Linked DNA regions of Homo sapiens: regions 1 and 3 are each reported to be linked to region 2. The links are microRNA targets in miRTarBase. Many come from high-throughput screens and were not tested one by one. Region 2 holds a microRNA gene; each other region holds the end of a gene's coding sequence.
Evidence for each region. Region 2 holds the annotated microRNA hsa-miR-874-5p (CGGCCCCACGCACCAGGGUAAGA, at 2,981-3,003, opposite strand). A microRNA usually pairs through its seed, bases 2 to 8, with sites in the 3' UTR of a target mRNA and lowers its output. Matches are read on the target gene's strand: a 7mer-m8 pairs with bases 2 to 8, a 7mer-A1 pairs with bases 2 to 7 and ends in A, and an 8mer does both.

Region 1 (8,039 bases), not on the chromosome of region 2:
GCACGCCTCTGGGGCTAATTAGGGCCTAGTAGGGTATGGCTACTGGACAGGCTGAGGCAGGAGGATCACTTGAGCCTGGGAGGTCGAGGCTGCAGTGAGCTATAATCACACCACTGCACTCCAGCCTGGGCTCAGAGTAAGAACCCATCTCTAAAAGGAAAAAGAGAGAAATGGAGAGAGCGCGCAGAGGTAGACAGCCTCCCTCCAAGCACTGCAGCTCCGAGGGGTCTGCTCTCCGATGGGCCCGTTGCATGCCCAGGCCGAGGGGTCTCGTTCTCCGATGGGCCCGTTGCGTGCCCAGGCCGAGGGGTCTGCTCTCCGATGGGACCGTTGCGTGCCCAGGCTCCTCTTCTGTTTCCTACTTCAACCAACAGCCTACACCCTTCCTAAGGACACAAAGTTCAGAAAGCATTGTTTCATCGACCAATATGAGGCTCTGCGCCATGGCACTGTGCTGTCTCGTTGCTGTGATTCCCCCGACCACCCCTGCACCCCACCCTGCCCCCAAAGCAAAGGTTTCCTGTCTGAGAGTCCTCCAGCAGCGAGGACCTGGAGGAGTGACTGTGCAGGTTCCAGATGCAGGTGGACAGCCTGGCCTCCGGCCTGACCTTGAGCCAAGACAGGGACGCAGCTGCCTCCGGAAGCCTGGGCCAGCGGGGACAGGGGCTGCAGTCCCAGAGTAGGCCCCAGCCAGGCAGTGGGTACCACGCTCTGCTCCCAGAATTCAGGCAGCGAGTGTGGTTCCTGAGCTCTCTGCATCTGAGCAGACCTCTGGGGACAGGGAGCTGCATGGCATGCCAGGACTGTGGTCTCTCAGTGTGGCCTGTGGCCCCCAGTGACCCAGCCCCAGGGCACCCAGGACCGAGGCTGCAGTGGCCGACTGCGTGTCTTCCATGGACGATGCCTGGGCAGAAGCGTGCCCTCTTACACCTGGGCGCAGTGTGGTCATGAAGTCACCGCTGGCCCCCACATCACTCTGCAGCCTCATTCTTCTCGGGGGCCCGGCCTTCAGGAGGGAGGGGCAGGTCCCATTCCTATTCCTTCTCTCCAGCTTCCAAAATGACCCAGTAGTTCTGGTCTCAACCTGGGCCAGCATGGGCCCCCTGCTCCTTCCCCACTCGTTCTGGTCTCAGCCTGGGCCAGCATGGGCCCCCTGCTCCTTCCCCAATGGGCAGGTCCTCGCACAACCAAAAGAAGAGCTGCCCAACTGGACCCTCCTGAGCCACGGCCCCCAGTGTATGGCCCTGGGCTACTGGTCCGCCCCAACCACCCACCAAAAGCAGGGCTCCCAGTTCTCCATAGGGCTCCCTGAAAGCCATCAGCCCCTGCCAGCACTCCTCAAAGTGCACTGATTCTCGAGAGGCAAACGAAAGCAGCAGTGCCAGGCCAGGCGCGGTGGCTCCTGTCTGCAGTCCCAGCACTGAGGGAGGCCAAGGCAAGAGAATCCTTTGTGGTCAGGAGTTTGAGAACAGCCTGGGTAACAGGAAGACCCTTATCCCTAAAAAAAAAAATGTTGCCAGGAGTGGTGACTTACACCTGTAATCCCAGCACTTTGGGAGGCTGAGGTGTGTGGATCACTCGTGCCCAGGAGTTCAAGACAAACATGGGCAACACGGCAAAATCCCATCTCTACTAAAAATACAAAAATTAGCTGGGCGTGGCGGGGTGCGCCTGTAGTCCCAGCTGCTCGGAGGGCTGAGGTGGATCGTTTGAGCCTGGGAGATGCAGGCTGCAGTGAGCTATGAGTACATTACTGCACTCCAGCCTAGGAGTGAGATCCTGTCTCAAAAAAAAAAAAAAAAAAAAAAAAAAAAAAAAAAAAAAAAAAAAAAAAAAAAAAGGGACCAGGCAGGGTGCTCACACCTGTAATCCATGCACTTTGGGAAGCTGAGGCGGTTGGATCACCTGAGGTCAGGAGTTCGAGACCAGCCCGGCCAACGTGGTGAAACCGTCTCTATTAAAAATACAAAAATTAGCCGGGCATGGTGGCACCTGTAATCCCAGCTACTCAGGAGGCTGAGGCAGGAGAATCGCTTGAATCTGGGAGACAGAGATTACAGTGAGCTGAGATTGCGCCGCTGCACTCCAGCCTGGGTGACAGAACAAGACTTTGTCTCCCCCCACCCCCCAAAAAAGCAGGAAACACACAGCTACTGCCCGGGAGCTGACAGTCCTAAACTGTCCTCTCTCTGGCGGGAGGCTGTCATGTGGGCTGTGCTTCGGGGACTGGACTTGGTTTATTACTGTCACTATAGAAAATTGACTTGGTTTGGCCGGGCGCGGTGGCTCACCCCTGTAATCCCAGCACTTTGGGAGGCCGAGGCGGGCGGATCACCAGGTCAGGAGATCGAGACCATCCTGGCTAACACGGTGAAACCCCATCTCTACTAAAAATAGAAGAAATTAGCCGGGCGTGGTGGCAGGCGCCTGTTAGTCCCAGCTACTCGGGAGGCTGAGGCAGGAGAATGGCGTCAACCCAGGAGGCGGAGCTTGCAGTGAGCCGAGATCGTGCCACTGCACTCCAGCCTGGGCAACAAAGCCAGACTCCATCTCAAAAAAAGAAAAGAAAAGAAAAGAAAATTGACTTGGTTTATCACCGTCACTATAGAAAATTGACTTGGTTTATCACCGTCACTATAGAAAATTGACTTGGTTTATTACCGTCACTATAGAAACAGGCGACCTGCTTCCCTAGGTGGCTCCCAGCAGCGTGGCCCACGCTTGGACACCCCACTCCCCAGAAATCTGGACTGAGACCCCAGGCCTCTGTCTGGCTTCTCACGAACAGCTGTCTGGAGAGCTTCACGTGCTGGAGAGCTGTTGCTCCGTCATCGCTCACAGAGGCATGGGCCCGAATTTCAGCCCCCTCTGCCTCTCCGTCCAGTGGCCAGCAATGGGCTGTCCAGCGAAGGGCCTCGCACAACCTGTCAGGGACTGGTCTGGCACGCAGCCAGCGTGAAATCCTCAGGTTGGTTCTCTTCAGATGTGGGAGGTGACCGCAGCCCTGCTCACAGAGAGGGTGGAAACTGGCGCAGGTGTGGGAGCAGCCTCCCTTCGGGGTCTCCTCGAAGTACCCAGGGCTCTCCCCAGCGCTGCCCGCCCCCAGCCTTCTGAACACCTGCCACGTGGATCACAACCTTGTCGCTCTTCTCGTCTCAACTAGAAGCAACTGCAGCATGGCCCTTCCCGATTTCCAGGTGCATGTCGAAAAGCGTGCAGTGGCCTTGTGACGTGGCCGGGCCCTTGGCAAGGAAGTCCTGGCGGGTATCAGCCTCTGCACTGCACCCTGGGTGGACTGAGTCGGGGCCAGGATTGTGTCAGGGGAGGTGGAGGAGACGCGGGGACAGCCGGTTCACAGCGGCCTGGACGGAGCACTCCGGGGCCAGAGCTGTTCTGAGACTTGGTGCAGATTCAAAGATTTTAAAATGCCTGGGGCTACATAAGGGGCAGCACTTCTCAGACGAGGGCTTCTGAAAGGGGCATTCCTTGGCACTGAGATGGAGACGGCAGTGCCTTTTCACCCTCTCCGTGAGGCCTTGTGCTGTGCTCAGCCTTGGTGTGCAGAGATGGGCAGAGGGGAGGCAGAGCCTCTGCCAGACGGGTATGTGGGGAGCAGGGTTGTGGCCAGGGCCCCCGCTCTGCCCTCTCGGGATTGCAGAGCTGGAGCTCCTCCCAGCTTCTCATGTGAGTCTGAGTCGTCCACAGAAGCCACTGAGGCCACCAGGAATGAGCCCCTGGTGCCCCGCTGCCACCTGCAGGGTGCTCCGTGAGCTGGGCCTGGGCTCAGTGTGCAAGAGGCATCTCCTCTCACGTGACCGTGGGCTCAGATCTGCCAACACTCCGGAGAACAGGGTAGGGGGCAGGGGCTGCACGAAGGAGATCCTACCCCTCCAGAGGAGGTGGGGCCCGAGGCCCGGGCCTGCAACCCTGGCCACCTGCCGACCAGCAGTGCAGTTGTGAGCACGCCACCTGCAGTGACACACACAGCCCATGGGTCCTACTCAGGCCTCCGTGGCCTGACTTGGGGGCTAAGGGGAGCTCAGGAGAAACCCAAAGTCCAGCCAGCAGGGCCCCCCCACAGACACCCCCTGCACACACAGGCAGGGGGGCCTACTGTGTCTCATGCATCATCACACCGGAGGGCAAACTCTGCGTGGTGAGCCTGGCCCCAGCCGGCCCTCCATGAATGGTGACCACACCCAGCTGGTGGGCGGTGTGGCCTTGGGTTTCTGGTGGGGCCACGGGATGCACAGAGCTGGGTTCTTGGGAGACGGTGCCAAGGCCAGCTGTCCCGAAGGTGGCCCCTGGCACAATGCCCACCAGACCTGAGGGAGGGACTGAGACCACCTCAATGCTGCAGTTCCTGGGGTCACGCAGAGTCCACGTGGGGAAAGGGGCAGTGGACCCCATGCGGTGCAGGGTGTGGCTTTGCCAGCAGAGGGAGCCCGCGTGGCCCTGGGCCCAGGGCTCCGGGCCGTGGCAGAGACTGCGGTGGGAATGGCCCTGCAGAGGCCCCAGCCCCCTTGTCCTCTGCATTCCAGCCACCTGCCCTGGGCCCAGCTCCAAAGGAAGGGGGCCCAAGCTCTCTGAATAAAAGGTGCACATGAGGACCAAGGAGGCCTGACACTGGGAGGGGACAGCTCCACCTCCTCTCCCCGGACACCCCAAAAGGCGGAGACGTTCACAAGCTGTCCTGTCGGCGGCTGCTGTTTGTGGAGGAGTAAAGCATCCTAGCGAGACTGCAGGCTCGGTGTACATCTGATTTACTGAATTTTAAAGTCTGGGATGTTAGTGGGGAAGAGGCGAGGTGAGCATTGCGTGACGCCGAGGACTAGGCGGGGCGGGGACTGCACCTGGCTAGGCACCCCCACCCTGGGCAACTTGCCCACGGACCCCAGGGCAGTGAGTAGTGACAGGAGGTAGCCCGGGGTGAGACCTCTCACAGCAAGAAGATGGTGTGGTTGCTGGGGCCTCCCTGGAGAGTGTCGTCCCTGCGGCCCCTGGGAAGTGCTCCCTCACGACGGAAGGTTTCCTGTCAGTGCGGTCCCGGGGCCTGATAGTGGCGGTGGGCGGGTGGGGTCACGTGTCCTCAAGGTCCTGAATGCCCAGCTCTGCCCCATTCCTCTGATTCCCAGTGGCTGCTAGCTGGACCCAGCTGGTGTCCTGGGCATGAAGGCAGGGCCACCGTCCCCAGCAGGTGCTGCCCTCCTGGCCAGCTGAGCATCCTGGCCACCATCAGCGTCCAGGTGCCCCTACTCGCCCTTCCTCTTCTTCAGAAGCCTTTGCGGACCTGACCTGGGCCAGCTTCCCGCGATTCCCCTTCCGCTTCCTATCAACGTCCAGGACCCAAGCTGCCCGCCCCAGGCCAGCCCTTGCCACTTGGGGCCCGGTCTTCACACGTGGGAGTCTGACCGGGGCTCCTCCCTGAACAGTCCTGGGTCTGACGCTCTCAATTATCACCCACGGACCCACACGACGCCCGGCTCTGGGCGGGGATGGGGCCGGGGCTGCTGCGGGGTCCCGCCAGGCGAGGCCCCAGCCCTGGAGGGCAGGCGCCAGGCGGGGAAGCCCTGCGGCCGCAGGGAGAGGGCCGGGGTCGCGCGGAGTCCGCGTGGGGAAAGGCCGGGCCTGCACCCGTCTGCCGGGTTGGGCGCCTCCGCTCCGGGTTCGGGACACAGGGGCCCTCAGGTAGGCGCCGGCCCTCTCGGCTGGGCGGGGACGCCGGCTTACGGCTCACGGCTGGCGGTCCCCGGGGTCGGGGCGCGGGGCACGGGGCGTGGGCGCGGGCGCGGGCCGTCGGGCGTGCAGGCCTTGGCGGACAGCGCGCTCTCGCGGCCCGAGCGGAAGGCGGCGGTCACGGTCACCAGGTAGGCGGTGCCCGGCGCCAGGCCCTGCAGCGTGGTGCAGTTGCGGCCCGCGGGCACCTCCACCCGCTGCGCCTCCCCGCCCCGCAGCGGCCCGAACTGCACGTGGTAGCCGAGCGCCGCGGCTGAGCCCAGCGCTGGGGCCCAACTCACGCGGAGGCTGCGCGGCCGGGCGTGGGAGATGACGATGCGCTCTGGCCCGGCCTCCTCTGGGGCGGGGAGGGCGGCGAGCTGCGTGGGGGCCGGCCCAGCCCCCGACTCCGGGCCCGAAGCCCCCGGCCCTGCCTCACCGGGCCGCGTGCGCACCCGCAGGATCTGGGGCCTCAGGAGGCGCACGTTGGACTCAGGCACTAGCGCCACGTCGTAGTCCGTGTCCGGGTCGAGGCCGGCCCAGATCCAGTCCGTGGCGTTCCCTGGCAGCTGCTGGCGTCTTGCAGCCCCCGGCTGGGCGCTGGGCACCAGCTCCAGCACATAGTAGCCCGAGTCTGCGGTCAGCAGGGGTGGCCAGGCCAGGCGGAAGCCGCTGGACGTGATCTCCGTGGCATGGAGCTGCTGCGGCCGCATCGCGTCTGTGGGTGGTGCAGGGGGTCAGGGAACAGCGGTCAGTTCCTCCTCCGCTGCTGGAGGGCGGCCCTGGCTGATGGGGAAGATCTGGAGATTGGAGGCCCCACTAGGAAAGACGGGGCCCCGCGGCCAAGGAGCTGCTGGAGCCATGCCCCGCAGATGCTGGGGATTCTCAGAACGTGCCTTGGCTGGGGGAGGACGGAGGAAAGGGTGCAGCCCCCTCAGGCCCTGTCAGAAGCGCCCCTGCCTCCCTTAGCCCCAAACCCAGTCCTTTGTGGAGAGGTGCAGTGGCCAGATCAGTGACCAGGACAAAGGTCCTCAAAGACGGCAGAGTCCACGGTGGTGCCTGAGAGCAGAGGACCAGCCCCAGCCTGAGTGGCCAGGCCGGGGTCTGAGGTCAGCCCGGCTCTCTGAGCTGCAGCTAGGAGATGGGAGACCACAGGGGCAGGCCCTGGGGTTCTGGAGGCGCTGCCTGCCCTGGGTCCCCAGGAGAGTGTGGGGTGGGGTTCTCCAGAGGGGGACTCCTGGACCTGTGACACCAAGCCCCACATAGCCCTCTGAGTGACCCTGCTGTGGCGAGGCTCATAAATGTCTGCGCTGGGTTAAAGCTATCAGGATCTTCCTCCTGCAGTGCTGGGTGCCTGGGCCACTTTCTTCCCATCCCCCACCCTCAGACCCGGCCTCTTTCCCAGGAGCCCCCACCCTGCTGCCTGGCCCCTCGGCACTGCAGCCTCAGGCTTTTCCTTTGGCTGCTTAAGGCAGCCTTTCCTCCTGGTCCCCTCCAGGCGCAGCTGCACTGGGTGACCTGGGGCCACTAGGGGCCAGACGTCCCTGGGGAAACCTTGGGGAGGGCCGTCCACCCCTCTCCAACCCACAGTCCAACCCCTTCCGGCTCTGGGTGGATGATTAACCCACAGACGGAGACTTGGTGAGATCCCCAGGGTTGGCATTTTTCAGTGGCTGCAGCAGGCTGAGCCAGTGGCCGGTTCCTCATCTCCAGCCCCAGCTCCTTCAGGGCTTGGCTGGGGCAGGGAGGTCCAGAAAAAAAGCCAATGGGAGCTGCTCAGCTCCTGCCTCAGGCCTTCCCTGGTCCGGCCTCTCAGGAAACCCTCACAGTGGGCCTGCAGTCCGAACTAGTTCAAAGCCCTCGGCGGCTGTCCCCACCCAGGAGAGGTGCCCTGTGCTCTCTGGGGGGGCAGTCCCTGACCTTTCTGGCTCACCCCTCTCCAGGTATGGTGGGCATGCTCAGGAGCACATGCTGCCCATCTGCAGAGTCCCCAGACTTGGAAGCTTCTTCCTGGGCCTACACCCGGGCTCTGCACTCCCTGGGGCCTCGAGGTCTGGGCTGGACACATCAGCAGGGAGCTACACCTGGAGGTGGCTACTCAAGCCTGCCCCCGTCTCAGCAGGGTACACGGGTCGCCCAGTGAAGAGTGTGCATAGACAAGCTGCATCACTCAGCCCTGCACCCTAGGGGTACCACAGCCCCGGAGGCCCTGGCCGCTGCTCTGGGGACATGAGATCTTCCCAAAGTCTCAACCCAGCCTCTCCTTCTGCGGCTCCCAGCTAGGGCTCCCTGGGCCCTGCCTCCTCCCGCATACCGAGAATGGA
Region 2 (8,039 bases):
ACCAATAACAAGCAACAAGATTGAATCACTAATAAAAAGTCTGCTATCAAAGAAAAGCCCAGAACCTGATAGTTTCACTGCTGAATTCTAACAAACATTTAAAGCAGAACTAATACCAGTTATTCTCAAACTATTCTAAAATATTGAAAGGGAGGGAATACTTCCAGATTTATTCTTTGAAGCCAGGACTACTCTAATACCAAACTAGACAAGGGCATGACAAAAAAGAAAACTATAGACCAATATCCATGATGAACACAGATACAAAAATCCATAACAAAATACTAGCAAATGAAATTCAACAGCACATTGAAAAGATCATTTACCGTGATCAAATAGATTCATCCTAGGGATGCAAGGATGGTTCAATATAACACAAATCAATAAAAACGATACGTCACATTAACAGAATCAAAGACAAAAACCACATAATCATTTCAATAGATGCAGAAAAAGCATTTGATAAAACTCAACATCCCTTCATAATAAAAACTCTCAACAAATTAGAAATAGAAGGAATGTAACTCAACATAATAGAGGCCATATATGACAAACCCGCAGCTAACATCATACTAGAAAGGGGAAAGTTGAAAGCTTTTCCTCTAAGAATTGGAACAAGACAAGGATGCCCACTTTCTCCACTTCTATCCAACATAGTACTGGAAGTCCTAGCCAGAGCAATCAGGCAAGAGAAAGAAATGAAGTACATTCAAATTGAAAGGAGAAAGTCAAACTGCTTGCAGAGAATATGATCTTATATATTAAAAAGCCTAAAGACGCCACCAAAAAACTATTAGAATGAATAAATGAATTGGCAAAGTGGCAGGATACAAAATCAACATACAAAACTTAGTGGTGTTCCTATACACTAATAGTGAACTATCTGAAAAAGAAATAAAGAAAAAAACTCATTAACAATAGCTACAAAAAAAAATAAAATAACTAGGAATAAATTTAACCACAGAGGTAAAAGATCTCTACAATGAAAACTATAAAACATTGACGAAAGAAATTGAAGAGGACACAAATAAATGGAAAGATATTCCATGATCATGGAAAGAATTAATAATGTTAAAATGCTCATACTACCTAAAGCAATCTAAAGATTCAATGTAATCCTTATCAAACTACCAATGACATTCTTCACAAAAATAAGAAAAAAAAAAATCTAAAACTCATATGGGAATAGCCAAACAATCTAGAGCAAAAGGAACAAAGCTGGGGGCATCATGCTACCTGACTTCAAAATATACAGCAAAGCTAGAGTAACTAAAACAGCATGGTACTGGCATAAAAACAGACACATAGACCAATGGAATCTAAAATTAGAGAACCTAGAAATAAATCCACACATTTACAGCCAACTGATTTTCGACAAACATGCCAAAAGCACACATTTGACAAGGTGTTAATACCCAGAATATATAAGGAACTCAAACAACTAAATAACAGAAAAACAGATAATCTGATTCAAAAATGGGCAAAAAGATCTAAACAGGTATTTCTCTAAAAAAGATATATGAATGACCAACAAGTATATGAAAAAAAATGCTCAACATCACTATTTATCTGGGAAATGCAAATGAAAATCACAACGAGATATCACCTCACCCCAATTAGAAGGTCTACTGCAGAAAAGACAAAAGATAACTGCTGGCAAGGATGTGGAGAAAGAGGAACTCTTATACCCTGCTGGTGGGAAAGTAAATTAGTACAGCCCAGTATGGTCAAAAGAAATCCAATTTTTATGGTAGGTGTTGCAAGAAGCACTCATACATGGAGCACTACACCCACTACTGTGTTGATCATGCAGAGTAAAAAGAATAAATTTCCTATCATGAGTGCTAATGGATAGTTGTTTCCATGGATACCTGATGTTAGCAAGCAGTTAGGCAAATACGAGTATTTCCCACAGTCTACATGTATCACATCTCTGAAATCACAAACTTCTAGCTACTTAAGAAGACCACAAGATGTTAGAGGAAGAGACTTGAACCATTCTCTCCTATATGCCCTCATTTTATATTCCAGAAACACCCAGGCCCAGGGAGTTCAACAAGCATGTTTCTTTCTTTCCCCAACACTCCTAAACCCCAATATACTTAAGATTAATATGCCTTTATTAGAAATTACTCAATCAAATCAGCTTATTTAATGATCACTATTTTTAACATTTATCTTTCAAGGTAACCCTGAGTAAGAACTATCAGTCACGTAGGAATCACAAACTAAAGAACTGGCTCTAGGTGAACAATTATGCTAGACTGAACATAATTTAATCACTCTCGTGAACTGCAGCATACTTAGGAGTTTGGCAGGGTGCCTCAAAGTTCTGATCCCAAGTCTCAACTGTCACTGTGTTGAAGGCTGCAGAAGTTCTGGTGAATGGAGGTTCTCTGGTTGACAGAATATGAGTGAGCTGAACTCCACTGTAGCAGAGATGGTTATTAGATACCTCCCAAGGAAAACACTGTCATTTTGAAAAGTCAAATAGCCATTTATTTTAGGAAGATTAGTGAGCCCAAGCAAAAGACTACCTGATTCCTTAGGAAGGAAATTTTACTCCCAGCATAACATTTTTAAAAATAAATATATAATGCTCTCTTGTTTACATAGATGATTCTGATTCTACCAGCGTGACTGTGGGATTGAAGGCATGTTGGTCCCTCCTCACCGAAATCACAACCACCCTGTGTCTGAGAGCCATTAGGTGCCAGGGACTAGCCAGGGAAAGGGACAATCCATGAAGAGAATAGAGATTTCCAGCCTACGTGTAGATCAAGACCCTAGCCCTGGCCTCAGGACTACATAGGTCATTCAAATTTCTACTCAGGTGAGAGGAACAATCTGGGCTCTACACACTTTTTTCATCGGGCAAGAGTAGAATGCATGTCCAAACTCTCTTCTGTGACCGGTGAGCTGGGCAGAAGGCAGGCCCAGCCAGTCGGTCCCTCGGGCCAGGGCAGGAAGCGAGAGTCTCTCTTACCCTGGTGCGTGGGGCCGCAGGGCTAACACCAACAATTCATCCGATGGAGCATGTCGAGGTCGAGCCAGAAGACTTGTCCAAGCAGGTTCCTGAGCAACAGTTGCTCTAGGCAAGTACTGATAGCAAGGTGCAGAGAAAATGGGGGTCTGAGAACCAGGTAATATGAGGGCAAGGCCCGGGGGGAGAGAAGAGGAGTGGAAAAAATGGGCTTTGGAATCAGACACATCTGGGCCCAAATATAGTATCAGCCCAGTCACTATATAGCTGTGTGGCTATGAGCAAGACATTGAACCTTGCTAAGCCTCATTTTCATAACTTGTAATATCAGGATAATAGGATGCTTCCCATATGGGTGTCAGGAGGCTTAAATGATATGAAGCACTTAGCACAATGCTTGATAAATAGTAAACACTAAATGTTATCTGATTAACACTAGTGTCATTATTAGCTTCTAAGGCAGGTGCTAAAAAACAGATTCCCAATGAAAGGTAGAAAAGGATACTATGAACCTGTGAGGGAGGGTAAGTACCACTAATTCTAGGGGTGATTATGGGGCTTTTTCAGGACCCCAGGGTGCTTGTCAGGGTGTGGACCAAGGTGGAAGGGGGCAGTGCCCATCCAGGGGCCTGGGCCAAATGAGAGGTCATCCCATCCACCCTGTCAACAGCTTCTTCAAATACCATCTACTGAAAGCAGGACAGCCCAACTCAGGAGCAAGCCACCCACTTCCAGCCCAAATGGCGTTTCAGTAGCATTTTTAAAGAGCTGAATAGAGATGCCAACTGAACTGGAATGACAGTGAAAAGTGCCAGGTTCAGTACATTTCCAAAAGGTTCATTTGCATCTTCCTGAAACCTCATTTCCTTGCTGCCATCTGTGGAACAGGGTAACGTAGGAGACTTCTGAGTGGCTGGGAGACAGCCTCGGGTTGTCCATGGCAACCCAGCCTCAGGAAAAGTGCTGGGCGGTGAATGTGTGGGAGCCAAGATGATGCTGTTAGCTGTTCCGGCTGGGATGTGTCAGTATGCTCTGTGCATATATGGCTCAGGAAAAACACCTTTATTAGCCTCTGCAGCTATCTCAAGGCAGAGTCCTGTTCCTCTCAGGGAAAGGACTTGGCTGGCAAACAGAGTTACTGCTGAGAATTACTGAATATAGTGCAGGTCTCTCTCCACCATGTTGTTTTTCAAAGTTTGCTCTGCCAGAAAGCCTATCTGGACTGAATTTATGAAAGCACAAACCAGCCTGCCCTTGGAATTCCTATGCCTGCTTCTCCAACTAGTCCAATTATCTCCTGATTTTTCTTCTTTCTCTACTTATTTGGTTGTTCATATATGTCTATCTTACTTTCTCAGAGAGACTTCTTAAAATTAAAAGTCCCCAAAGGGCAGGAATCAGGTTTCTTTCAACACAGCATTCGGCTATAATGCTTTTGTGACATTTGGAAGCAATATAATAAAACAGTTCAGAGCACAGGGCCTCGGGCCAGTCATCCTAGGCTTAAACCTCAACTCAGCCATTTACTAATTGTGCTTTAAAGATGGGTCACAAATTCTGTGATACTACTACACTCAGACGTGGAACTTAATACCTCTCCCCTTAAGTGTGGGCTAGACTTAGTGACTTGTATCTAGCAAATAAAAGACAGAAGTGATGGGACATGGATTTTGACATTAGGTTATAAAAACACTACAGCTTCTGTGTTAGATGTGTGCTCTCATTTTCTTGCTCTAGAATCACCCTCTCTGGAAGAAAGCCAGCATGTCATGAGGACACTCAAGCAGCTTATGGAGAGGCCCACATGGCAAGAAACAGGCCTGCCAGCAACCACATGAGTGAGCTTAGAATCAGATCCTCCCCAAACAAGCCTGAAATAACTGCACCCCGACCAACAGCTTGACTGTATGAGAGACCCTGGGTCAAAAGGACCCAGCTAAGCCACTCCAGGATTCCTGCCCACAGAAACTGTGAGATGATAGATGTTTATTGTGTTAAGCCATCGTAGGGTAATTTGTAATGCAGAAATAGATAACTAATGCATAATAAGTGGGTGACATAACCCAAGGTCCAACTTCCTCATCTGCAAAATGGGGATAATTACAGTTATGAAAATCCTATGAGATAACAAATATAAGTCACTTAGCCCAGTGGCTGGCACATGATAAGTGCTCAGTAATTGATATCTGCTGTTATCATTATTGTGGGTACTAGTATCATGTAGTGATTAAAAGCCCAGGCTTTGAGTCAGCCAGACTTGGATTCAAGTCCTCACACTGCCACTTAAGCGCTGTAAAACCCTGGGCAAATCACTCAGTCTTACTCAATCTCACCGATTCTCAGTTGTCTCCAACATTAAAGCCTCCAGAGTTGTAATAAAGACAAAATAAGATAATGGGCATTACATACTTAGGCTAATAATGCAAAGAAGCTGCTCAGTAATTAGTATTTAAACAATACTACTTGTATCATCATCAATACCTTTGGTGATGATGACCAGGACAATGACCCAGGGAAGAAGATGCAAAGTACAAATTATTCTAAGTGGTCACCAGAGGGTGTAAACCAGTTTTCTCCTGCAGTCACCTGAACCAGTTTCTGGATGTTCACTCTCACAGACAATTTGCGTTTTACCTTGGAGACACAGCTCCTGTCAGCTCCTGCAGAAAGCTTTCCTTAACTCCTTACCCCTCTCTGTGCTCCCAGAGTGTTTTTCCTGTACCCCTATGAGGGCATTTACTCACTCCATTGCAATTGTCCTTTCACAACTGTTTCCCCTCCTCCTGGTCTGGGAGTCCCCTGGGGAAGAGACCAGTTCATATCAGCCTTCGTGAATCCAGTACTTACCCCAGTGCCTGGCAATTAGTGGTTTCTCTATGGAAGTATGTTGGATGAGTGAATTAAAAAGTAATGAATTGGCAAGGCACGGTGGCTCATGCCTGTAATCCCAGCACTTTGGGAGGCTGAGGAAGGTGGATCACCAGAGGTCAGGAGTTCGAGACCAGCCTGACCAACATGGTGAAACCCCATCTCTACTAAAAATACAAAAAACGTAGCCGGGCATGGTGGCAGGCGCCTGTAATCCCAGCTACTTGGGTGGCTGAGGCAGGAGAATCGCTTGAACCCAGGAATCAGAGGTTGCAGTGAGCCAAGATCGTGCCATTGCACTCCAGCCTGGGCAACAGGAGCAAAACTCCATCTAAAAAAAAAAAAAAAAAGTAATGAATTAATGCATACATGATTGTTGATAGCTGGATTTCAGATTTAAAAAAAAGAAAGAAAGAAAGAAAAGAAACAAAGAACCTTACAACCCTTCTAACCCCCAGGAACGACAACTGGATTCATTCAAATTTGGACTTGTAGGCTTGAATCAAACATTCTAGGGTCAACCTACATTAGTGGTCAAAGGAGGATATAAAGTAGGATATAAATCCTCACTAAAGCCATGTGAAAACGCAGGTATGAATGCTGATAAGCCCATCAGGAAAAAATGAGGGGTGATATAAATGGTCAGTATTAAGTCTCTATGAGGTTATTTCTTCTTTAAAAATGTATTTCTTTAATTGAGGCCGTGTGCCAAGGACACAGATGAGTAATGCCTGCTGCCATGGAACCTACAGTTGCGTAGAGGAGCTAACACTCTAGAAGAGAGCCCTAAATGCCTGCCTGAGGCATCAGCCTGGGCTACTCAGTAATCTTCTGAAACTACTGTCCTTGTTGTTCAAAAAGCAATGAAGCCATCACCAACCTGACCTCTCCCCCATTAAATAACCTTTCTCATCAATCACATTTCTACCTATCAGCAATAAACAATTAGAAATTGGAATTTCAAAAGAAAACATTTACAATAGCATCTAAAACAATAAAATACCCAGGGATAGATCTAACAAAAGACATGTAAGACCCATAAACTGAAAACTATAAAACACTGATGAGAGAAATTAAAGAAGACCTGCATAAATGGAGTTATGCTGTGTTCATGGATCTAAAGATTTAATATTATTAAGATGGCAGTTCCCCCATTTGATCTAGAGATTCAATACCATTCCAAGCAGAACCCCTACAAGCTTTTTTGTAGATAGACAAGTTGATTCTGAAATTTAATGGAAATGCAAAGGACCTAGACTCACAAAAACAACTTTGAAGAACAAAACTGGAGGACTCATATTGCCTAATTTTAAGACTTACTAGAAAGCTAGTAATCGAGGCAACATAGTATTGGTGTAAAGGTAGACAGATAAAATGGAACAGAAGAGAGTCCAGAAATAGACGAACACATATACAGTCAATTATTTATAACAAAAGTGACAGGGTAATTCAATGGAGAACAGAGAATCTTCCCAATAAATAGTGTGGAACAACTGGACATTCATATGCAAAACAAATGAGCCTTAGACTCTCACCTCATGCACCATATTAAGAACAACAACAAAAAAAAACTTCTCAAAATGGATCCATAGGCCTAAGTGTAAAACCTAAAACTTCTAGAAGAAAGTATAGGAGAAAATCTGTGACTTCAAATTAGGCAAAGATTTTTTATATAGAGCACAAAATAAACCATAACAGAAAAAAATTGAAAAATTAAAAACTTATGCACTTCCAAATACAGTACAGCCACCATGGAAAACAGTGTGGAACTTGCTCAAAAAAATAAAAATAGAACTACCATATAATCCAGCAATCCCACTATTGGGTATATATCCAAAGGAAATGAAATCAGTATGTCAGAGAGATATCTACTCTTGTGTTCACTGCAGCATTAGTTGCAAGAGCCAAGATGTGGAATCAAGCTACATGTCCATCAACAGATGAATGCATAAAGAAACTGTGGTATACATATTTAGTAGAATACTATTTAGCCTTAAAAAAGAAGGAAATCCTGTCATCTGTGACAATATGGATGAACCTGGAGGACATTACGTTAAGTGAAATAAGCAGGGCACAAAAGGACAAATAACATACAATCTCACTCATACGCGGAATCTAAAAAAGTTAAACTCATAGAAGTAGAGAATAGAATGGTGGTTACCAAGGGATAGGGGAAGGGGTTGGCTGG
Region 3 (8,039 bases), not on the chromosome of region 2:
TCCCGGCCCCTGCTGCCTTGCTTTCTCTTGATTGAGAAAGGAACCAAAGATCAAAAGGCAGTGAAGAATTGGGGACTCTGAGAAGGGTGACTTTCCAAGGCTTGGACCCCTTAGCAGCTTTGCGGCCTAGGGGCACTTGACCCCTGTGTGATAAGCCGAATCCTCTTTGTCTTAGGTGGGGAATTGGTAGCTGGCTCATCCCTTGCCCCAGCACCTGCAGCAGCGTGGCAAACACTTGGCCAACATGCGCTGAAGGACTGGTCGACAGAGTCCCACGACTGGCTGCTTCAATACTGACCCCCTGAGGGCACTGAGAAGGCTCTGAAGCCGTCTCCAAGAGCAGTTTCATGTGTGCTAGGAGCTGCAGCCACATGGGACTGGGCCTGTGCGTGCTATCCTGGGGCTTCAGGGGGAACCAGCCCTCCAGCCTGCTAAGCGACCAGCAGCAACGCTCGGGCCAAGGCCCTGCATTTTGCTGCTGGCCGTCCTTGGGTGGGTGAGGCTACAGAGGTCTGGACTGGAGGTTGTGGTTGGGGGCCACAGGTCTAGAGCAAAGGGAGGCAGGTGGGCGGGCCTTGTGGGGGGTTCCCTAAAATCCATCAGGTGTGGTGGTCCTGAGGTGAGTTTCTGATATCTGTCCAAGCAGCCATCAGGGGCCAGTCCCTTCCACCAGGAACAGTGAGGCTTGCCCACCACCGAAGCGCTGCTCCCCACCCCCTCAGCCTCGCTCCCCCACCTAGTGCAGCCACCACTGCCATTCCTAGTTCTCTACCAGGACCCCAGGGCTTAGCACTGCCCACCCCTGCTGCTGGTGGATCTCTCCAGGTCTTCTGTTAAGGCATTTTTATCTTTTTTTTCCCTTAAAATTCCCATGACAGATTACATAAAAGCATTTTTAAAGCATGTTCACCGTACTAAAAAAAATTAGGATTTAGAAGAAAACCTAAAGGGGGGAGGAAAAAACCCCCTATAACCCTGCCCCTCAGGGAGCACCAGCAGTGAACCTGCAGTGGATTCACTTCTGGGCGGCAGCCGAGCTCCCATGTGGGACAAGTGCCATGCAGGCTTCGAGGATGGCGGAGCGGGGTGGCGGGAGCAGGGGGCAGAAGAAAGGCTCAGTGCTTTGTTCTTTTTTTGAGACAAGGTCTTGCTCTGTCACCCAGGATGGAGTGCAGTGGCGCAATCCTAGCTCACTGCAGCCTCAAGCTCCTCAAACTTAAGCGATCCTCCTGCCTCAGCCTCCTAAGTAGCTGGGACTACAGGCTTGTGCCATCATACTGGGGCTAATTTTTTGATTATCTGTAGAGATGGGGGTCTCCCTATGTTGCCCAGGCTGGTCTCAAACTCCTGAGCGCAAGAGATCCTCCCACCTCAGCCTCCCAAAGTGCTGGGATTACAGGTGTGCGCCACCACACCTGGCCTCAGGAGGTGCCAGGAGGGTATAAATGGTGGGCCTCAAGAGCGTCATGTCAGAGGGTCTCCATCCTCAGGATGGAACCTCCTGGGGCACATCAGGCTCCTGGATAAAATGAGGGGTCCTCAATGCTCCTGTGGCTCCCCAATGTCATGTGAGGTCCCAGGGGCTTAATCCCTTTCCTGTCACCTTCCTGCTGCTGGTGGGGGTGGGCTCAGAGCCCCTCAGGGAGGAAAATCAGGTTGCTGGCTAGACCAGGAGGGTGTAGGCCACCAGGGCTCTCTCCAGAATTTGTCTGCTCGCTTCGCAAGATTTGCAGATGGTCCCCAATATTAAAGCAGCTTCCAAACACATCTGGACATCAAAGGGGACAAGATGCTCAGAAGTCAGGAAGAAGGCAGGACTCGGGCGACAGAGTTCAGAACTTGTGGTTTATTGACACTTCTGCATGGTGGGTCCTTGGGAGACTGCCTTTCTGGCATCTTGGGACTTGTCCCTAAGAATAGGGAAGACAGTCATCCTGTCCTGGAGCAAAGCTCCCCCTTGCACAGGAACACAACTCCCATGCAGGAGAAGCCCACCGAGACGAACGCAGATAAACCCTTCGCAAGGCCTGCACTGCACCGGAATGGCAGAGCTCCGTGCATTTGGCAAAGCTATGGAGCCTTGGCAGAATGCACAGGACTCTGGGGGCTGCCCCCCTTGAGCTACAGAGGCAGAATCGAACCAAAAACACTGCTTCCTTTAACACAGCCCAACTGGCTTACATTTAGCTTGGGACGAGGCTAGGCCTAAGAAGGGCCAGAGCTGTCCTCCCAGCCCTGGGAACACGGCTGAGACGGCCCGGTGCCCACGCTGGGCTCACCATAGGAGAGGAGAGGAGAGGGAGGGGGCCCCATACTGGCCCTGCCGTCTGCACCCCGTCCCTTTCCCCACTAAACACACCCATTTCCTATCCTGGGTTCTGAGGCTGGGACTGCCTCTGGGATTCTGAGGGACTGCCCTCCACCCCTGCAGGCCTGGGCTCAGAGTCAGCCACACCTGTAAGGCAGGCCCTGCTTCCCCAGCTTTTGTATTCCATATACGGTGCTGGCATGTGGAGCTCCATTCTTCTCCAGCCCACTTAATTTTAAGAATAGACACTAATAAGACTTAACCACCCCAACCTGCTGGCAGCAGGAGGGCCCCTGTGTGCTGGCAGCATCTCCCCAGGACACGCCGGCTCACCTGCACCCACAGCGTTCTAGGAGGTCGCGGCCTCTGCAGACTCAGTGCAACCCCTGGGCCTTACAAAAGGGACACTCAGAGGTGCACTGCCTGCTCAGCTCACACAAGGAACAAGTGGAGAGCTGGGCTGGAGAAAGGATTACAATTTACAGACCAGTGTCCCTGGCTAGGGGCCCTCATGGGACTGTGGCTGGAAGAGAAGGTCGCCCCGGAGGTTGGAGGCTGAAGACACCTGGTGCTTCTTGGTGCAGTCCTGGTCAAGATGGAAGAGCGCTCCTCTGTGCCCAGCTGCTGTGCAGGGGTGGACGAGGGCTCCCTCGGCCCCAAGGCAAGGGCGGAGCAGCTCCCAGTGCTGGCACCAGACCTCTGCCAGGCACGGGGCATGGCCATCCTCTGGGGTCCTGGCTCAGGGGTGGGGAGCGGCAGTGCTGGGACAAGCCTGGGGAAAGGGTTTCCCATACACTGAGGCTGCGAGATCTTCCAGTGGAGCCTCAGGCTAGGGTATGAATCAGACCACCAGGTGATAGGAGCCAAACCTCCACATGGTGAAACTTCACTCTCGGCAGCCAGGAACAGAATTATTAGCAAAGAAAAGAGAAAAGCAGATGCCAATCATTCTCTCTCTTCGTCAAGGTTATGCCCACGGGCAGGGTGGGCTAGTGGTGAGGGTGGAGCTGCGTCCCTGACCCCCAGAAGGAGACAGCAGGCCTTCAAGTTAAGCCAAGCAATACTTGGTCATTGTTTGTGGCCAACCATTCTCTGAATGTCTGAATGACAGCGACTATGTTTAAGGTTTTTTTTTGTAAATAAGAGACCTTAAGCAATGCATTGACTGCATGGTCTCAACCTCATCTGTGCTGTGAGAATGAGGGGTAAGGCTGGGCATGCAGGTAGGGCCCCAGCAAAGCTGGCTCCCCGCTCCCTGTGGGACAGAGGGCTCCCACCGGGAAGGCGGCTCTAGCGTGCCTCCTCGGCGAGCTGAGAGGAGGCCAAGGTGCTTGGGGCACAGCTGTGCAAACCTTCCTGGGGCTCTCGCTGTCTGCAGGTGGACTCTGAATGCCTTCATGGGGACCACACAGCCCAGCTTCCTCCCTTTCTCCTCTCCTCCCCCTGCACTGCTCTGACCTGCCTGGAGCAGCCCTGCCCACCTCCAGCTCAGCCCTTCCTGTGGCTTGGCCCTGCAGATGGCCTCTGAGTCCTCCCCTAGCCCCCTGCCCTCTTCCCTCTACCCGACACCCTCCCCCAGCCTTGCCACTTTCAACTTTGCACGCCCTCAGTGAGCTCCCTGAGGCACCCAGGATCGGTCACTTGTGAGCCCCCTCTCAGGGTGCACTAGGGGACGTGGAGCTCTCATGCCTGTTCAGGGCATGGGGCAGAGCAAGGCAGGCGTGCTGCCAGCCACCGCGGCAAGGTGAGGGGCTGTGGCCTGTGCCATGGACTCCCAGCAGCATCCCTGCTGCCTCCAGACTGAGACAGAGACCCACGGGCTGCCTCTGTGCTTGCCTGAGCCTCTTAATTAAGAGTCTTTCCCAATGAGACCAATTTGATTACAAATTCACAAGATATTTGGGAATGTTCCAATCACACAGCAGCAAGGTCCCTCTGCCTGGGATCCAGCCAGGCCCAAGGGGGTGGGAATGCAGGCAGATGGGCCAAGGTCACCCGGGATGCCCAGAGCCCCGCTGTCGGGCCCAGGCACCACTACGTGGCAGTCGCAGCTCCTGCCAGTCACCTGGGCAGCGGGGGGAGGGGAGAACCTTGGGGGTGTTCAGCATCACAAAGAGGCGGAAAACTCTTCCAGAAAGATCTCACCAAAATCATGCCTCCCTAACAAAACAAATCCTGCTTTTCTAAAAACCTCAATGGGCCTATCCGAGCCCACTGCAGTCCTAGTTTCTTCAAAGCTGTGTAAGGCACTTGAATGGCTTATTAACACCACCTGGAAAAGTTCCTGTTTCAATCCTGATTTAGAAAATAAATTCAATAATACTGCAAAAAAAGGTTCCTTGAAAAATAGCTTTAAAAAAGTAAATACTTAAGTTTTCTAAAGAATAAAATAAATGCTAAGCTCTGCTTAAATTATATGACACAACAGGTCATCTTGGCACTGATAAAACAAAGAGAAAACCTGGAATACTGCTTCGGAATTAGACCTCCCTGGAAAAAAACAAACACACCAACAAAAGACACATGTGCGTCGCCGGTTCCGGGCTCAGGGAAGAGAGCAGCCCGGAAGGCCCTGGTGGGCCCAAGCACATCATGGCTGCCCTGGAGTGGGGGCAGGGGGGTGGCTGCTACAGAACAGACCCCTGGCTCTGCTGCGCTCTCCTCTTTGGGACACTGGTGTGGCCGACCAGGACTGGCTGGGCATATCTGTAAATATGAACCCACCTGGCCCTGGCCGCAGAGAGGAGCAATGGGAAACTGGGGCTGGCCACTCCGCTGCTGGGCCTGACCCAGGGGGTGCTTCAAGAGTTTGGCTCCTGGGTCCGCCCCAGGGTCCCACGTGCACAACCATGCTGCCCCATGCACACCAGTGTCTTTGGTTTGGCTGCCGTTGGGCACCTATGACCTCTGGTCCCACCCCGGGCCTAATAGGAGCTGGGAGCAAGAGCCGGTCCATCTTCTCTTTGGTGAGGTCTCCTAAGCTGCCTTCCACCATCTGCCCGCCACCCAGTGCAGTTCCACAGCCACCAGGACGGGCTGCGGGGGGTGTCCCGACTGGCTCTGGGGTGCTGGGGAAAGCACTGTGGGGCGGGCACCCTGTCCACTGCCTGCCACCTGTTGGGTCCTGAGGCTTCTGAGGGAGAGAAGGACAAGGATGGGAGGAAGGGGAGGGCAGGGGCCTGGAAACCACCTAGCTTCTTGGTGGAGCCTGGGTCTCAGGTTCTGGAAGGCTGGAGGGCAAGTCCTGCCTCCTCCCTTCTGCCTGGGGGTCCCCTTCTCCCTGGTTCCCGCCCTCCAGCAGCTCTTGGGGGTCCCTGAGGAAGACCACCATGACCGTGATGTTGTCGTGGGAGCCCCGCTCCCGGGCCGCAGCCACCAGCTCCTCGGCGACACGGAGCCCGCTGCCCTGCTGCCTGGTCAGGTGGCTCTGGACCAGGCCAACAACTTCCTGGTGGGGTACGACGTCAAAGAAGCCATCACAGGCAAGCAGCAGGTAGTCCTCGGAGCCCGTCAGCGCCCGGGAAGCTGCATCGGCCTCCCCAGACACGTAGGGCTTCTGGAAGACATCCCCTGGACAGGCGGAGAAGAGCCCGGGTCAGAGGACCACGGTGTCCACAGCTTCCTCCCCACCTACCCAGGCCTAGACCTCACATCCTGCAGGGACAGAGACCAACCTGCTCTCATGGGGTCTGGGGTCTGTTGCTCCCTTATGCAAACTGCCCAGTACTTCCCACTTGCCTGGGAACGGAAACCCCTGACCTTGGCCTGTGAGCTCCCCCTTTTTTTCTTTTTTCTTTTTTGAGATGGAGTCTTGCTCTGTCGCCAGGCTGCAGTGGCGCGATCTCAGCTCACTGCAACCTCTGCCTCCTGGGTTCAAGCGATTCCCCTGCCTCAGCCTCCCGAGTAGCTGGGATTACAGGCTCGCGCCACCATGCCCAGCTAATTGTTTTTTTTTTTTTTTGTATTTTAGTAGAGATGGGGTTTCACCATGTTGGCCAAGATGGTCTCGATCTCTTGACCTTGTGATCTGCCCACCTCAGCCTCCCAAAGTGCTGGGATTACAGGCATGAGCCACCACACCAGGCCGAGCTCCCTCTTTCTCTGCCCTAGCCGTCCCATCCTGGCCTCACTTCCTGGAGTGTCCAGAGACACAAGGAAAGACACAGCCTGAGGATGGGCTGTCAAGAAGGTGCCACATCTGCCAAAAAGGACAGAATGTTTCAGAGGGGTAGGTGCCAAATCCCTGGCAATCAGCTGGGGAGGGAGAGATTTTCTAAGTACCAGGAAGGAGGTGTGGTCACAGTGCCCACAGCCTGAGACCCGGCACTGACCGCATGCTGAGACAATGAGATGCAGGCTGGACCCACTTTTTTTTTTTTTTTTGAGATGGAGTTTCGCTCTTGTCGCCCAGGCTGCAGTGCAATGGTGCAATCTTGGCTCACCGCAACCTCCACCTCCAGGGTTCAGGTGATCCTGCTGCCTCAGCATCCCAAGTAGCTGCGATTACAGGCAGGCACCACCACGCCCGGCTAATGTTTTTTGTATTTTTAGTAGAGATGGGGTTTCACCATGTTGGTCAGGCTGGTCTCGAACTCCTGACCTCAGGTGATCCACCCGCCTTGGCCTCCCAAAGTGCTGGGATTACAGGCGTGAGCCACCGCGCCCAGCTACTTTTTTTTTTTTTTTTGAGACACAGTCTGGCTCTGTTGCCCAGGCTGGAGTGCAGTGGCACGATCTCCGCTTACTGTAACCTCCGCCTCTGGGTTCAAGCACTTCTCCTCCCTCAGCCTCCCAAGTAACTGAGATTACAGGCGCGTGCCACCACACCTGGCTAACTTTGTATTTTTTGTAGAGAAGGGGTTTCACCATGTTGGCCAGGCTGGTCTCGAACTCCCGATCTCAGGTGATCCGCCCACCTTGGCCTCCCAAAGTGCTGGGATTACAGGCGTGAGCCAGCATGCCCAGCCAGACCCATTACTTTTTAAAATTTTTATTTATTTTTATTATTATTTTTTGAGACAGAGTTTTCCTCGTTATCCAGGCTGGAGTGGAGTGGCGCGATCTCAGCTCACTGCAACCTCCGCCTTCTGGGTTCAAGTGATTCTCCTGCCTCAGCCTTCTGAATAGCTGGAATTACAGGGGCTCACTACCATGCCTGGCTAATTTTTTGTATTTTTTTTTTAGTAGACATGGGGTTTCATCAGGCTGGTCTCGAACTCCCGACCTCAGGTGATCCACCCACCTCGGCCTCCCAAAGTGCTGGGATTACAGGCGTGAGCCACCGCGCCCAGCGAACCCACTTTTTTCCCAAAAGAGAAAAAAGGATTGTCAGCATGAACGCGGGAGGAGGATAAACCTCATTTCCGGAATATTGGAAGCTCTACTTCCAGCCCATAGGGTGGTGAGCCACAGGTTTCTATGAGATTTGTAGGAGCTGTTTTAGGTGAGATAATAACATACAGTGTAACTTACACTCAGACACTGGTGCTGCAGTCTCTGAATCTGCCCTGTTCCCTTCACACTACGAGGGTATCACCCCAGTGCATGACAAATCCCCCTCGGCCCATCACACTGCCTCCCTGAACCCCTGGTGAGCCGCGGGCCACACTCGAGGCCTGGGCTTCCGAGAGACCTTCTCCCACTTGGGTCGGCCTCTTTGGCTCTCACCGATGGCTCTGGAGACGGCCAGGGTCCCGTTGACTCTCCAGCAGTCCATGTGAGACACAAAGCC

Region 1: the mRNA of VWA1 is a reported target of hsa-miR-874-5p. Seed matches in the 3' UTR shown: 7mer-m8 at 5,532-5,538, 7mer-m8 at 4,511-4,517, 7mer-A1 at 4,299-4,305 and 8mer at 4,164-4,171.
Region 3: the mRNA of PPM1F is a reported target of hsa-miR-874-5p. Seed matches in the 3' UTR shown: 7mer-m8 at 3,536-3,542, 7mer-m8 at 2,961-2,967 and 7mer-m8 at 2,306-2,312.

Annotation. Positions count from the first base shown.
Region 1 is chr1:1,437,475-1,445,513 of GRCh38, reverse strand. VWA1 (von Willebrand factor A domain containing 1) reads right to left here. Exons shown (of 3, transcript NM_022834.5): 2 at 8,030-8,039; 3 at 2,632-6,433. The coding sequence ends at 5,727. Among named protein-coding and RNA genes, the nearest start is that of VWA1, 5.8 kb to the right of the region's middle. RefSeq lists enhancers at 3,886-4,035, 4,652-4,701.
Region 2 is chr5:137,644,638-137,652,676 of GRCh38, forward strand. It overlaps MIR874 (microRNA 874), which reads right to left and starts at 3,012; the gene lies at 2,935-3,012. The region is part of intron 8 of KLHL3 (kelch like family member 3); the gene reads right to left.
Region 3 is chr22:21,917,594-21,925,632 of GRCh38, forward strand. It overlaps PPM1F (protein phosphatase, Mg2+/Mn2+ dependent 1F), which reads right to left. Exons shown (of 8, transcript NM_014634.4): 7 at 7,976-8,039; 8 at 1,832-5,878. The coding sequence ends at 5,499. Among named protein-coding and RNA genes, the nearest start is that of PPM1F-AS1, 17 kb to the right of the region's middle. RefSeq lists enhancers at 1-134, 2,310-2,969, 3,631-4,289.